Linked DNA regions of Homo sapiens: regions 2, 3 and 4 are each linked to region 1. Evidence: fine-mapped expression QTL. A gene starts in region 1. Each other region holds a variant in brackets. All regions are shown on one strand. Distances are from middle to middle.

The links. PIP is the estimated chance that this variant, and not a neighbour inherited with it, causes the effect.
Region 2: its variant is the best candidate, but not a certain one, in a credible set for the expression of CCDC191 in nasal epithelium (TOPMed, PIP 0.50).
Region 3: its variant is the best candidate, but not a certain one, in a credible set for the expression of CCDC191 in whole blood (INTERVAL, PIP 0.63).
Region 4: its variant is the best candidate, but not a certain one, in a credible set for the expression of CCDC191 in whole blood (INTERVAL, PIP 0.64).

The regions. Positions count from the first base shown.
Region 1 is chr3:114,054,511-114,058,682 of GRCh38, reverse strand. It overlaps CCDC191 (coiled-coil domain containing 191), which reads left to right and starts at 2,157. Exons shown (of 17, transcript NM_020817.2): 1 at 2,157-2,306. The coding sequence starts at 2,217. It overlaps QTRT2 (queuine tRNA-ribosyltransferase accessory subunit 2), which reads right to left and starts at 1,946. Exons shown (of 10, transcript NM_024638.4): 1 at 1,819-1,946; 2 at 1,577-1,684. RefSeq lists an enhancer at 2,006-2,415.
Region 2 is chr3:114,030,775-114,034,946 of GRCh38, reverse strand. CCDC191 (coiled-coil domain containing 191) reads left to right here. Exons shown (of 17, transcript NM_020817.2): 6 at 1-22; 7 at 3,168-3,321. Among named protein-coding and RNA genes, the nearest start is that of CCDC191, 24 kb to the left of the region's middle. The variant G/A (reference allele first, on the strand shown) is at 1,817.
Region 3 is chr3:113,969,322-113,973,493 of GRCh38, reverse strand. All of the region lies in intron 16 of CCDC191 (coiled-coil domain containing 191), which reads left to right. It also overlaps a transcript of ZDHHC23 not described here. Among named protein-coding and RNA genes, the nearest start is that of ZDHHC23, 23 kb to the right of the region's middle. The variant G/A (reference allele first, on the strand shown) is at 1,914.
Region 4 is chr3:113,999,488-114,003,658 of GRCh38, reverse strand. CCDC191 (coiled-coil domain containing 191) reads left to right here. Exons shown (of 17, transcript NM_020817.2): 12 at 1,121-1,203; 13 at 1,963-2,064. It overlaps LOC105374048 (a long non-coding RNA gene), which reads right to left and starts at 1,970. Exons shown (of 3, transcript XR_924347.4): 1 at 1,751-1,970. The variant T/G (reference allele first, on the strand shown) is at 1,694.

The DNA.
Region 1 (4,172 bases):
CACATGCCTGTAATACCAGCTACTCCGGAGGCTGAGACAGGAGAATCACTTGAACCCAGGAGGCAGAGGTTGCAGTGAGCCAAAATCATGCCACTGCAGTCCAGCCTGGGTAACAAAGCAAGATGCCGTCTCAAAAAAAAGAAATGAAGAACGCTACAATTCTAGAAAACAGTAAATGAAGATTTTTCCAAGGCATTCGGAAATCGTTACACCATTTGGTAGGGGGAAAGAGATAACGACGACGTTAAACTTTGTTGAGTATGTGTGTTAAAAATTCAGAAGTAACTGTTAAACGATTAATGACAGAATGCATAATTTCCAAACTCACTGGAGAGGGAAGTGGGAAGATAAAGAAAAATGAATTAACCTAATAAAAGGCAAGAAAGGAAAAGAGACCAAAAAAAAGAAATAGAAAACACAAAATAAGATGGTAGAATTCCAAATGTCAGTAATCACAATAAAAGTTAAATTAATTTCACATATAGAAAGACAATAATAGCAACTAACATTTATCGGGTATTTACTATGTATTAAGCACTGTTCTTTATATATTCACTCCATTAATCCTCAGATCAAATGCATAATATAGATACCATTATTATCTGCATTTTATGTATGATAAACTGAGGCTGATAAAATCCCCAGCTGGTAAGTGGCAGAGCAAGGACTTTAATTATTGAAGTCTAGTTTTCAGCGCTGTACTCTAATAGGCTGGGAGCTTATTAGAAGTTCCATCTGGTACACAAGCACATTATAATCTTAGTTTCCATTTTGCTATAGTGTTCTTCTTCTTTTCCCTTTCTCCCTCCCGCCTCTAATCCATCCTCCCAGTCTCTGCAATCTTTCTCCATTCTCATACAAATATTTAAACATACTTGCATATGGGAGGGAGTGTTTTGGTCAGGGTTTGCTTTTACAAAAATGGAAACATATTATACTATAATATATGCACTTCTCTGCAATTTGCTTTTCTCTCAAGAATAAACATTAGACGTCTTTCCTGAAGAAGAGACATAAAGCTAACTTACCCTTTTGAAAAAAACTACTTCGTGGTACTGCATAGTTTGTATGAGCACAATTTATTCAACCGCCTTTCAGACAGACCAGTTACAGAGCTGGTCCTAGGATCGCTGCAACAGTCCGAGGGCATAGCTTCCCTAACTTCATTTTCACCAATTTCAAATCAACTTTAGTTTACATTTCCTGGCAGAATGCTTCACATACATTTATTTTTAATCATTACAACACTCCAGTGATTCAGGTATTATCGTCCCCATTTTGCATGAGAAAACAGGGTCTCTGAGTTATTAAACAAGTTGCCTAGGGTCATATAGCCACAAAGTAGTTGAATTCAAAACTCCTGTTCTAAATCTTTACTCTGCTTTATAAGCCCATTTATCACCCCTAAATGGGCTGTCTCTGGAAACACCTCGGCTAAGCCAATAAGCCTGGATTTATCTTTGCTCCATGGGCCATCTCCATGGCCCCAGACCTCCCTAGGCACCTGGCTCAGAGATTGAAGACGGTCCCACCCTCCCATGGGCAGTTCGGAATAAAAACTTCCTGAAAACTCTACCTTTCAGCAGAGGCTAGTCGAAAGGGGCCCTTTTATCTCAGAGGTGTCGGCGACGCTCACACGATTTATGAGAATCTGAACTTACAGAAACCAATCCACCAGGACACCCTGAAAAGGGAAGCAGAGGAGACATGGCGGGAGTACAATCACCGTTACTGCAACACAACCAGGAAGCGTCTGGACGCGACGTGACTCATCCATCTCTAGCAGCTCCCACACCAGCAGGGCAAAGGGGCACTTACCTGCCAACAAACCATTCGACTCTTTCAGTCTTCAGACCCCTCAAACTCCTCACAGTTCACTACCACGTGTTGCAAAATTCTCTGCCCCAAAATCACTGCCTCCAGTGCAGAGCCAATCAGGGAGTACTGCGTCATCACTGGGCGCCAGAAAAAAAGCAAAGCCGACATTCAAGCGAGCCTTGATGACGGCAAGAGCGAGGGACCTCTGCCGTTGCTATGGTAACTGAGCCAACGCGAGCGGCCTGCGCAGAGCCTCGTGGGAGTGGTGGTTCGACGGTGTCCTATGCCTGCTTTCCTTGCGGGCGGAGGAACTACAATTCCCAGCGTGACCCGGAGGCAGCCCGGGCAGAAGGGCGGTTGCTGCAGCTTTGGCCGAGGTTCGGGCTCGAACTTGGAAAATGCTCCTGGCGCCTCAGGGAAGGTCCTTCTCAAAGAAAAGGATGGGGCTGAATCGCTGGAAACGGTTCACAAGGAAGCCGAGTCCCAAGGTGATCCCAATCGAGAGCTTTGGAGGGCGGGGACTTTCCCAAGGCGCGGCGCAGTCAGGAAGCCAGTCGCGGCCCGTCTGTGCTTCCTGCCTCTTCATCCTGAGCTGACACGCCCCTGCCTTGACCGCCCCAAAGCCAGCATTACCCTGAGTGAAATGCTCTAGGAGCTCTGGGGTCTGGGCACATTACGGCTTTGGTGGGCAGCATCGTGGAAGAACTGTTTGTAACGCTTTTCTAAAACCGGAGGTGTCTGCTAATGCCCATCGGGGTGAAAGGAGTTTGCAAACTCCGTTCCCCCTACCTTAAATTTTAGGAAACTTCTCGCACATTTCTTTCTTTTTCTCTCTCTTTTTTTTTTTTTGCAAATCTTGGGGTAATTGATCTTTATTAACGGGAGAGAGCTTCACATTAAATACCCTGCCTATATTCCTGCCCCTTCACTTTTACGTAAAGTATCTAAATAAACTCAGGAGTGCAAATGGATATTGAATACATTAATACTTGATTCACATAGTAATTTCTAAATTCAACCAACTTTCAAAAAATAGATTCTCTCCGTATCTATCACCCATTTGGATGCATTAGCACCTGAAGATAAGAAAAAAATAATAACCCCATTTTAAACTTGAAACATATGTGACATGTGCAAAGTCACAGTTGCACCGTGTGCTTTCCACAGACTACCTTTTTAACAGTCCCCAAAAAGATGCTTAAAATCTAAATGAGAGTACTAAAATGGAGAAGCTTCTCAGCTTTCAGCTACAGAGCAGTTTCACCAGCTGTTTTCACCCTTAAGTTATACTTTCCTAAATAATATTCTGTAGATGTATGTGGCCTTTTTGAGGGCCCCAGGCGATTGTTCTTGCGATTTATTCTAAATTTACCAGCTAAATGCATTGGACATATTCCACATGACAAATATGTTGCCCTAGATACTAGAGGGCACAGACTGAAGCATCAGGGAGACTTGGAAACTGAGGCTGCTGCTATTTCAATACATCAGTTGCATAATGTATTGGATCCAAGATAGGATATAGATATGGACTTGATGATGAAAGGTAAAAATTTAGAATAATTTCTTAGGACTCCAAAAGGAAGGATTTTTGCTGCTAGTGCTCATTATTACTGCCTAGAGAAAAAAAGGTAAAAACATAGGGCTTCTTCAAGTTCAGTTGTATTTTAATTAGATCAGCTCTTTCTTTGTTGCAGTGACAAAATTATTAAGCAGTACAGCTGCGTTAGTTATCAGTAAGATGCTTTGAAGGTAAAGTGTTAGGTAAGTGAAAGAGTATTATATTTTTCCCACCTCCATGTGTCAGTATGCTAGTTTAGATATCCCCTTATTTTATTATTATTATTATTATTATTATTTTAAAGAGTATATTTGAGTAAGAAGCAATTCATGAACTGGGAACGCCAAACCAAAAGAGATTTAGTGCTCCAATGACAAATCATCAGGATATCCCCTTATTTTAAAAACACACCTGAATTTTTAGTGAAGAAGATAACTCTATTTGTTAAGTGACTATTAGAGGGAATTCTGCAAGCTTCTGGGAGTTTCAGAGGTTGAAGAAAGGAAATGTCCTGATAGTTTTACTTCTAATTTCAGATTAATACCTGACTGATCTGGGTGGAAATTTATATTTTCTGCTTTGTAAAACAGTAAAAGTCAGATTGATTAACCCTCGCCCCATTCCCCAGTTTTTGTTGTTGTTGTTGTTTGTTTGTTTGTTTGTTTTTGAGACAGAGTCTCGCTCTGTCGCCCAGGCTGGAGCGCAGTGGTGCAATCTCGGCTCACTGCAAGCTCCGCCTCTCGGGTTCACGCCATTCTCCTGCCTCAGCCTCCTGAGTAGCTGGGACTACAGG
Region 2 (4,172 bases), 24 kb after region 1:
CTGTGAAAGCAGCATGGAAAATGTAAGCCAGTGTGATAAGCACTGTGGGGTTTCTCTGTTTAAGCAGTCATTTTAGAAATGCTCTGAAGTTTTTGAAGTGCACAAACATTCAATAACAAAACATAGAAGAGAAATCACTCACTATTCCACCATCTTAACAAATTAACTAATTTCATATTTCCATGTTCCTCCTGACGTGGTCCCTTTCCATACTTAATTATACAACCATAAAGTACATTTAATTTGTAATTCTGCTTGTTGTAATTAACACATTGCCTGGAGTCCTGGGATGTGTATAATACTCCATTGAGTTCCTATACCATAATTTATGTAATGACCACCTCCCCATACTGGTAAATGTTTCAGCTATTTTGGATTTTTCACCATTATAAGATTGCAATGAGCATCTTTAAGCATAGAGTTTTTTCACTCTTTTGTATTATATTCTTAGAATAAATTCTTAGCATAATTTCTGAGTTAAATGACACAGGTCTTTTTCTGACTCTTGAAACATTGCCAAATTGCTTTCAAAATGGGTTGTTTTGCTGATGATACTTGTTTACTGTATCATCAGCAGCAGGCCAGTTTATCATACTCTTCTCAGCCTTAGGGAGTATCATCATTTTCAATATTTTTACACTTTTAATAGGTATTACATTGATTAGTTTGCATTTCTTTGGTTAGATAATATTTTTAAGGTTGAACATGTTCAGTAATTGTGTCTTATCCTGTTGTGAATTGTGTGTCTTATTTTCTGATAAACATATGGAAAGTCACCACTGCCTTACTACCACTGATAAAGAAAAAGAATATCTGACATAAGAGGAAGATGAAAATAGTCCTCACAGGATGTAGTACTATTATCCATCCTCATGCAGAAAATGAGCTTCATAAGTGAAATAACTAATGTATTTATTCTGAGAAACAGCACTGATGCAGGAACTGCAAAAGCCTTGGAACAGCATGACTGAAGTGTCTGACTACTCGAACTGAGAGGCCACAAAGACCTATTAGATAATCCCTTCCACCCCCATCAGCCTACACAGCTTTCCCCCCTGTGCTCTTGATTGCTCTTATTCTACCCAGTTTAAAACAGCTCAGCAGTGGACATGTGCTTTACTTCTTCAAGTGCCAGGCTGAGGCTTCCTCCAGATGCCATTCCTTTCAGAAAGCAATCACTGGTGTTTTAGTGAGTTCTTTCTAAGGTCAGCCTTGCTTTTCATATTGCTCCCAAGCCCTGGAAAAACTAGGTTGACCTAAAATAAATTGTGAAAACAAGTAACGTTTAATGGTAGTAGGATGCTCTGCTCACAGTGGGCACTCAACAAATGTTCACTGACCAGTCATTTATTTTAAAAGTTAAGATCTTATCCATGGTTACAGTGAGATAGGTAATATGTTCTACTTCTGGGTGGATGAACTGATTTAAACTTTCCAGAAAGCAATTTGGCAGTAAACAACAAGAGCCGTAAAATAGTATTATCCCTTGACCTAGGAATTACAGCCTTAGGAAAACTGCCCTAAGAAAATTATCAGAAATCCAGACAAAGATTTGTGCAGAAAGATAATTTAAACAACATTATTTATAATAACAGACTTTCGTAAATATTGGAGAAATTGCTAAGTCATGGCTGTACAATGAAACAGGACTGACTTTTTTTCTGGGTAGAAATATGGATGGCTTTTATGGGCGTGGTGGCACACACCTGTAACCCCAGCTACTCGGGAGGCTGAGGCAGGAGAATCGCCTGAACCCAGGAGGCAGAGGTTGCAGTGAGCCGAGATCATGCCACTGCACTCCAGCCTGAGTGACAGA[G/A]TGAGTGAGACTCCATCGCAAACAGAAAATAAAAAAAAAAAAAAGAAATATGGATGACTTTTATACTTCTCCAGTTTTTCACAATGAGCATATATTTCTTTTAAAATAGATATATATTCTAATGTTATTTTAAAAAATCAGTTTCATGGTATTAGAACTGTATTTCTTTGACAATCACTATCACCTGTCTATAACCATGTAATATAACATTGTTATGGCATTCATAGTTTGGAAAAAGTCAATAACATTTTTATTGTTGATAGGCCTTTTGAACCTATTTGTAAGCTATCTTAAATCTGCCTCATTGCCTAGTTTTAAAGTTATCTCTTTCAAGATGCTTATTAATTTCAAAGGGAAAAATAATAACTCTATACTGGAGAAGCCACCTTAAGCAAGTGATGAAGGTTAACATTACCAATAATACAACATAACACTGTGTACCCTCTGTAACATATATGAGAATGAGTGAGAGAAGGGGTAGGGTACTCTGGCATCTTTCTCCATTTTAGTTTCCACAACTGTGAACTAAAAGTTCAAGAAAGATCAGGTGACTAGCTGGTTTGTGGCCAGAGCTCATGAGTTCTGATTCCTGACTAGGTGCTATGTTTACCACATCATTAATAATATATACTTTATACACATACATATACCTGTGCAGTTAAATGCACTACAGTAGGAAGGCCATAGCTATGAGCTTGTTTGAATTGGTGAGCAAAAGAGGGATGGCCTGGATGAGGAAGAATAGATAGGTGGGCAAAAAAGAGGATGCTCAGAAAGATGAGCAACAAAGTTACTAAAATAATTCTGGTTACTTGCCTAAAGTCCTTTTCCTTTTTAAGTTCTATTTTTTTCTCTTTTCAGCTATTTTAAAATTATTCTAGATTCCATTCCCTCCTTATTCAATAACACCTGATTCTTTTGTTATTCCTCTTTCTAGTAACCTTATAAGAGGCCTTTTAGTAAGAATCTCATTCCTTTCTTGAGAATCCTTTTTTTCTCGTTCTATGGGAGATAATTTATGTCTATATTAGAGACTATCTTGTAGTTGTTAACTCTCAAATTTTGATCAAAGTATGGCTCAGTGTGCAACTCAATAAAAATACTAAAGTATCTATAAGACTTTCTACTTTTCAAAGTACTTTATAACAATTTTATTTCATTTAATCTGTATTTTATAAAGGAATAAAATAAGTCTCCAAAAAAATTACCCTACTATGTAGTTTTAGAGCCAGATCTAAAAATATGTGTATTCCGAAGGAGAATTCAGTGATTATTCTGCTACAGTAGGTTGTAATTGCTCATTTTTAAATCTATTGTAAATATACATGTATTTTTAAATTGTTATTAATAGAGAGAAGAAAAGGCAAGAAGAGAATTCTCAAAATAGTTCAGAAAAAGTCATGTTTCAAAGTACTCACATTCTTCCAGATGAGGAAAAAATGGTGAAGGAAAGAAAAAGGAAATTGAAAGAAGTATTAATCCAAACTTTCAAAGAAAATCAACAGGTGGGAATTGCAATGTCTCTTTACTCAGCATTCTGTAGTATAAATGACAAAGAGCTCCATCAGAGATGGGATAAAATAAAAACTAAGTCCAGTTGAACCTCATCACAAATACCAAAACTGCCCACGCCATTTGTTCTTTGTGCCCAGCTGACCTGGTATGCAGGGCAGTACACAAATCCCCTGTTCTGAGGCTATTCTTTGTATACTCTGGTGGGATCCTGGGAAATTACTGGGGTGAGGGGGGTAAATTGTGGACTTCTTCCTAAATTACCTCTTCAGAATAGCATTTAACTATTATTAACCTTAAACTAAGGTAGCTCTCTGGCAGTTTTTGAAATCTTGGCTTCCACTTTGACAGTTGTAAGGACCATTGTGTTCTGGATTATTCAGAAGATACAAGAACTGGTTACTTGCCTTTTAGTAGCTCTGATCCTAAAGCAATGATACACTTAAACCTGTGCTTTTCTTTTTAATGGTCTATATTTTATTTTACCTTTTCTTCCTTTCTTTCACTTTATCTTTTTGTAAAAATTACTTGCTGATTTTTAATATAAAAGTGAATATCCTCTTCAGGTTACTTAAGCAGTTTTCTTCAATAAAGTGGGATTGATAAAAGTATGAATTTTGGGATTATAACATTTCAGGTAAAAGGACTGACTGGGCAGATTTGTAAATGAGAGGGTTAGATGAGAAAAGATAAATATGTATATTTTACATATCCTACAACACCCACCCCAGGGCCTTAGGCATTGCTGAAATTCAGAGAAAGTTAATTGAATAAATACGTGAATGAATGGATTTAGCAAGAGAAAAGAGAATGTTAGGAAGATACTGAGGGAGCTTGGTAAATG
Region 3 (4,172 bases), 85 kb after region 1:
CAGACCCATCTTACAAGAAATGTTAAAGGGAGTTCTTCAATCTGAAAGAAAAAAACACTAACACAAAAAGAAAACAGTTGACAGTAGAAAACCTACTGATAAAATTAAGTACATGAACAAACCCAGAATACTCTAATACTGTAATTGTGGTGTGCAATCAACTCATAACTCTAGTATGAAGCCAGAAAGACACATCTAGCAAAAACAGTAATAGCTACAGCAGCCTGCTAAGAGGTAATATAAAACATGGAAACTAAAACAAGAAAAAGTCAAAATGTTGGGGGATTTCTAAAAAGAAAAGGCAAGAAATTAAAACATACTACCTGAGAAAATCGTTTTGCCACAAGGGAAAACAGTAAGAAAGGAAGACAGGAGTTACAAAACAACCAGCAAACAAGGAAAGAAAAAATTGCCATAGTAAGTCCTTACTTATCAATAACTGAATATAAATGGACTCAGTTCTCCAATTAAAAGACATAGAGTGGCTGATGGATAAAGAAACAAGATCCAACTGTATGCTGCCTATAAGACACCTACTTCACCTGTAAAGACATACATAGACTGAAAGAGATAGAAAAAGACATTCCAAGCAAGTAGAAACCAAAAACACAGCAGGAATAGCTATACTTATATCAGATAAAACTGACTACAAGTCAAAGACTATAAAGAGAAATAAAGAAAGGTCATTATATAATGATAAAGAGGTCAATTCAGCAAGAGGATATAACAATTATAAATATCTATGCACTCAACATCAAGCACCCAAGTATATAAAGCAAACAATAAAGGGAGAGATAACTGCAATACAATCATAGGGGACTTCAACACGCCACTCTCAGTAGTGGACAAATTATCCAGAAGAAAATCAGCAAGGAAACATCAAACTTAAACCAGAAACCAGGCCAAATAGGTCTGACATTTAAAGAATATTTTATCCAGCTGTTGAAGAATACACATTCTTTTTATCAGCACATGGAACATCCTCCATAATAAGACCATATCTTAGGCCACAAAACAACTCTCAACAAATTCAAAAAACAGAAATTGTATCAAGTATCTATTCTGACCACAATAGAATAAAATTAGGAATCAGTAAGAGGAACTTCAGAAGCTACACAGATAGAAGGAAATTAAACAACATGCTCCTGAACAACCAATGGGTCAATGAAGAAATTAAGAAAAAATTTAAAAATTTCTTGAAACCAATGAAAATGGAAATATCATAGATCAAAATCTATAGGTTATAGTAAAAGCAGTAACTTCTTTTAAGAGAGAAGTTTATAGCAATAAACACATCAAAAAAGTTGACAGACTTCAAAAAATAAGTCAACTATGCTCCTCAAGGAAATATAGAAAAGCAAGAACAAACCAAACCCCAAATTATTAGAAGAAAGGAAATAATATAAATCTAAGCAGAAATAAATGAATTGAGACTTTTTCTGACTCAAAATCAGAAATGAAAAAGGAGACATAACAACTGAGACATCAAAAATACAAAGAATCACTAGAGACTATTATGAACACCTATATATCAATAAACTGGAAAACATAGAAGAAATGGATAAATTTCTAGACAGATAAAACCTACCAAGATTGAATGATGAAGAAACAGAAAACCTCAACAAACCACTAATAAGTAATGAGATTGAAGCTGTAATTAAAAAGTCTCACCTAAAAGAAAAGCCCAGGTCCTAATGGCTTCAAACTGCTAAATTGTACCAAACTTTTAAAGAAGAACTAATACAAATTCTACTCAATTTCTTCAAAAAAAAACTGAAGAGGAGGGAATACTTCCATACTTATTCTATCAGGCCAGCATTAGCCTGATACCAAAACCAAACAAGGACATGATAAGAAAAAAGAAAACTACATATCCCTGATGAACACAAATGCAAAATCTTCAACCAAATACC[G/A]GCAAACCAAATTCAATAACACGTTGAAAAGAACATTCACCATGATCAAGTGGGATTTATCCCAGGGATCCAAGGATGGTTCAACTTATGCAAATCAATAAACATGATACATCACATTAACAGAACCAAGAACAAAAGCCATATAATTATTTCAAGAGATGTCCAAAAAGGCATTCAATAAAATTCAACATCTGTATGAACAGACACTTCTCAAAAGAAGACATTTATGCAGCCAAAAGACACAAGAAAAAATGCTCATCATCACTGGCCATCAGAGAAATGCAAATCAAAACCACAATGAGATACCATCTCACACCAGTTAGAATGGCGATCATTAAAAAGTCAGGAAACAACAGGTGCTGGAGAGGATGTGGAGAAATAGGAACACTTTTACACTGTTGGTGGGACTGTAAACTAGTTCAATCATTGTGGAAATCAGTGTGGTGATTCCTCAGGGATCTAGAACTAGAAATACCATTTGACCCACCCATCCCGTTACTGGGTATATACCCAAAGGATTATAAATCATGCTGCTATAAAGACACATGCACACATGTTTATTGCGGCACTATTCACAATAGCAAAGACTTGGAACCAACCCAAATGTCCAACAATGATAGACTGGATTAAGAAAATGTGGCACATATACACCATGGAATACTAAGCAGCCATAAAAAATGATGAGTTCATGTCCTTTGTAGGGACATGGATGAAGCTGGAAACCGTCATTCTCAGCAAACTATCGCAAGGACAAAAACCCAAACACCGCATGTTCTCACTCATAGGTGGGAATTGGACAATGAGAACACATGGACACAGGAAGGGGAACATCACACACCGGGGTCTGCTGTGGGGTGGGGGGACGGGGAGGGATAGCATTAGGAGATATACCTAATGTTAAATGATGAGTTAATGGGTGCAGCACACCAACATGACACATGTATACATATGTAACAAACCTGCATGTTGTGCACATGTACCCTAAAACTTAAAGTATAATAAAAAAGAAAAATCAACATCCTGGCCAGGACCAAAATGCCCACTTTCAGCACTTTTATTCAATATAATACTGCAAGTCCTTGCCAGAGCAGTTAGACAAGAGAAAAAAATAAGGGCATCCAGGCCAGATGTGATGGCTCATGGCTGTAATCCCAGGGCTTTGGGAGGCCACTATGGAAGGATCACTTGAGGCCAAGGGTTCAAGACCAGCCTGGGTGACAGAGAAACCCTGTCTTTAAAAAAAATGTATCCAAATTGAAAAGGAAGAAGCTAAATTAGCCTTGTTTACGGATGACATGCTCTTATACTTAGAAAAACCTAAAGACTCCACCAAAAAAAACTGTTAGATCTGACAAACAAATTCAGTAAAGTTGCAGCATACAAAATCAACATTCAAAAATCAGCAGCATTTATTAATATATACACCAACAGTGAACAATCTGAAAAAGAAGAAAACAATCCCACCTTAACTAGCTACAAAGAAAATAAAATACCTGGGAACCACTTTAACCAAGGAAGTGAAAGATCTATATACTGAGAACTATAAAACACTGAGGAAAGAAATTGAAGAGGACACAAACATATAGAAAGATATGCCATGCTCCTGCACTGGAAGACTTCTTATAGTTAAAATGGCAATACTACCCAAAGCAATTTACAGATTCAATGCAATCTCTATCAAAATACCAACAACATTCTTCACGGAAATAGAAAAAAAATTCCTAATATTTATATGAAACCACAGAAGACCCTGAATAGCCAAAGCAACACTAAGCAAAAAGAACAAAGCTCTAGGTATCACACTACCTGACTTCAAAATTTACTACAAAGCTATAGTAACCAAAACAGCTTGGTACTGGCATAAAAACAGGCATATAGACCAATGAAATAGAATAGAGAACCCAGATTTAAATCCACACATTTACAACCAACTCATCTTTGACAAAAGTGCCAAGAACATAAAATGGGGAAAGGACACTCTTTTAATAAATGGTGCTGGAAAAACAGGAGAACTATATGCAGAAGAATGAAATGAGACCCCTTTCTCTCACCATACACAAAAATCAAATCCAAATGGGTTACAGATTTAAATCTAAGTCCAGAAACTATGAGACTACTAGAAGAAAACATTGAGACAATGCTCCAGGCCACTGGTCTGGCCAAAGATTTTTTGTGTAAGACCTCAAAAGCACAGACAACCAAAGCAAAAATAGACAACTGGGATTACATCAAGCTAAAAAGTTTCTGCACAGCAAAGGA
Region 4 (4,171 bases), 55 kb after region 1:
AAATACCCAGTTAAGTATGATTATTTTTTTAAAATTATTGTTTGGTCAAGGAGTTAGCTATTTTAGAAGCCCAGTCTACTTTCAAGTAGTCTTTTGATGATTAGATCTAGAAAAGATGGGCAAAGGGCATATTACCAGAGACTCTGCTTCTTAGGGGTCTCTTACTTTAATCCCCTAGTCTATTTCTGCCTTCTTAGAGACAATTTCACTCTCGCCATCTGTGGCACTACCATTCTTTTTCAGCAAAGCAGACACTTAATAACTGTAAGAAATAGCCTGGTGAGTTTTTTGTTTATTAATTCTTAAAACTTGGACTTAAATTCTTTTCTCTAAAATATGGCACAAGGAACTGAAAGTAACTATTGGCTGGCTTAGGTGAGCAGAACTTGATACTCCTCCCATCCATGCCCCTCTTCCTATGAAAGCCCCAACTGATTATAGAGTCATATTATCAGACCATCTTGCACATTTGTTTCTTTTGGATCGATATTTAATAGCCTGTCAAGAACAGGAGTCTGACACTCAAATTCATTCAGATGCCAGTTCTCCAAATGCCTGGTACAATTCCATTTCCTGCCCATCTGTATATCCAGGCCTTAAAACTAGATTCAAATATATTCATCGTGACCCCAAACTTTAGTTTGTTTGTTGTTATTCTTATATATACAGACATATGTACAGTGACTTAAGAAAAATTAGCAGATTCAATAGGATTTGAGGAACGATTCTACTCTCAAAGTACTTGTTAGATGTAATTAAAGTTTTCTGCATTCATCAAACATATAATCAAATTAGAATTCTGGTTTCTGGGTTTCATATACTAAAAGTATCATCAAGGCACATTATAAATCAGTAAACAATTATTTTAATAAAAATGTAAACAAAATAATTAATTTATAAATTGTTCCTCATTGCTGAGGATGGGATAATAGGTCTTTAACCTGTAGAGTATATAAGTTCTGTTTATCTCTATATATTTTCTGAGATTGTGAACATTCAACTTACAAGAAAACCCTAATAATAACACTAAATTTTACTATGAAATGGAGACATTTCTCTTGCAGTATTCCTCATATTTTTTCAATATAAAAAATATTAGAACTCTGTTACTATTTTCTAGCTATGGAAGAGAGAGCAATTCAACGAGCTGAATGTAGGCGGATCTTGGCAGAGAAGAAGAAAAAACAAGAAGAAGAAAAATTGGTAATAGATTCAAAATGCAAACTGAGTCAAAAAAGAAGGATTTGTCCAGGTCTTTCTTAAAAAATGAAACCTTGCTTTTTCAGAACTCCTGAGACAATAGAGTTACATCAACTTTGGAAATGGTTTTTTGGCCTAGTGGCCTGAATTCCGTGACAATTTTAGGAAAATAAGGGGGACAGAAACATCAACATCATTAACACAGCAGGAAGAAAATGTTATGAAAGTTGATGAGAGTCAGCAGATTAGAAGATTTACACATAACCAAGATTAGTGTATTATAGGTAGATGTCTGACCTACTGAATTTGCAAAGAGGGATAGTTCTTATTTTCCAAAGTTTTGACCTAGACTATCCAAAGTAAATTTTGTAACTACCAAGAAAAAATAAACAGTTCCAACAATTGGGGGTTTTCTGGTGAAATGAAAGAAAACCTTTTTCCCCCTAAACTGTTTCTAACTTGGAGTTAGTTTTTCACAGATGACAGTAAGAAC[T/G]AAAAAGTAATCATTTTTTAATGAAAGATTGGTGATCTTATTTATGATCAGTCTTACCTTCCCAAGTAGAAAAGGATTCTTTTGGAGAAACTTTTAAGTTACGTAACTGATGACAGGTTGATTGAGTTTTCTACTTTTATCACAAAATGCAGACTTCTTCCAGAGATAGGACAGGCACTTTGGTAGACGCTTGACTATCCTAAACATAAAAGATCACATTTCTGTTCAAATTGAGGGTTCTGATATTTCTGGGTTCTAATCTCAATCAGGCCCAGTTAAAGGCCCAAGAGGAGGAACGTCAGAAAAGGGAGGCAGAAGAAAAGGAGGCACAGCTTGAAAGAAAACGAGAAGAGAAGAGACTGAAGAAAATGGTTAGTATTGTCTATTTGGTCAGTCCCTGTATCTTGAGGTTTGCTGTGTGTGATACTGTGGCCCTATCCACCTTCTTTAACCCAGAACTTCTATCTGGAATACTCTTCTCTCACCCTCACTTCTTTTCTCTATCTTACTTAGTGAAAAGCTACTCATTCTTCAGATTTCAGCTAAAACAGAACTTTGTCCAGATTAGCCTTTCCTGCCCTGCCCACCCTCCTCTCCACTCAGAATTAGGTTGGGTCCCCCTTTGTGGACTCTCATCAAGTATCTTCCCTTCAGAACATTATTGACAGTTATCATTGTGCATTTGTTTTATGGCTGTTTTATTCATTTCTACATCCCCAACTAAACTGTGATCTCCATAAGGGTTAAGGGAACAGTCTGATGTTGTTCACTATTGTATTGGCACCCAGCAGATATGTGTTTAATGAGTGAATAAATGAATGAACAAATGGAAGAAGAAGTGATAATACACAAAGAAATAATAATACACACAGAAGAAATAAGAGAAAAAGCTCTTACTCTAAGGTTATTAAATTCTGCTTGGGAAGATAAGGCCTAAAAATACAAACGTGTCAGAGACACTGTAGTAGAGTATTTGACATCATGTGCTACATAGACGAAAAGAGATCAAGGGGCCAGACATTGTGGCTCACACCTGTAATCCCAGAACTTTTGGGAGGCTGAGGTGGGAGGATTGCTTGAGCCCAGGAGTTTGAGACTAGCCTGGGCAAGATGTTAAGACCCTGCCTCGATAAAAAAAAAATTTTAATCATCTGGGCGCAGTGACACCTGCCTATAATCACCAGCTACTTGGGAGGCTAAGGCAGGAGGAATCCTTGAGCCCAGGAGTTCGAGGCAGCAGTGAGCTGTCATTGTGCCACTGAGCTCCAACCCGGGCAGCAAAGTAAGACCATCTCTAAGAAAAAAAAAGAGAGAGAGAGAGATCAAGAAAGTCATATAAGGTATGTTTCATGAAGAATTTGGAGAAATTAGAAGTATTTTCATGAAAAGGAAATTTGAATGGAGAATTGTATTAGTCAGGATTCTCCAGAAAAAGAGAACCAGTAGGACATATAGACAGAGGGAGACTTATTTTGAGAAATTGGCTCACGCAATTATGGAAGCTGAGAAGTCTCATGATCTGCCATCTGCCATCTGGAGACCCAAGAAACCCAGTGGTGTAATTCCAGTTCAAGTCTGAAGGCTCAGAATCAGGGGAGTTGATGGCATAAATCTCAGTCAAAGAGCAAGAGAAGACCAATATCCCAGCTCCAGATGGGAGGCAGGAAGCAAAAAGGGGCAAATTCTTCCTTCCTCCTCCTTTTTGAAAGTTCTATTCAGGCTCTCAGCAGATTGGATGATGCCCACCAACATTAGTGAGGGCAATCTACTTTACTAAGGCCACCAACTCAAATGCTAATCTTATCGAGAGACATCCTTAAAGACACATCCAAAAATAATGTTTAATCTAGCACCCCATGGTATAGTCAAGTTGACACATAAAATTAGCCATCACAAGTCCACCCCTTGTCAACATGGCACCCATGCACATCTCCTTAAACCGTAGTTAATCTGCAAATAAAGACAATAGCACGATCATAATTCCACCTAACATGATACAACTATCCAGCATACAACTAAAAACATACTAAACCATTCCTCAGAAGAGGAGGTAAAGTCCTTGTGTGATGTTTACTCTTCTCCATGATATCCCATAACTTAAATACTTAAATAACTTAAATAGCATAAATGATATAATATTAGTAACTTAAATACTGTGATAGAAAGTTACAGTATAAAAGAATAAGAGGAAAGAAAATGCACAAATGTATTCATAGCAAAATAAGGAGAAAATACTCATGACACAGTTTTTGTTTCTACAACTGGTTACATGGTCGTAACTGGTATTTATAAATACCTTCTTCCACTACCCCTCCATATTCCCCTTGCCTTCAGCAAGCACCTCAGCTGCTTGTGATTCTCTACCCAACAGGTGACCCAAACCTTCATTCCTAAAGTCACAGCAACATTCATAGTCCTGCCTGGATTAGGTTGTAGTTTTCCATTTACTCTAATTACAGGACAATGTTAATACTAAGA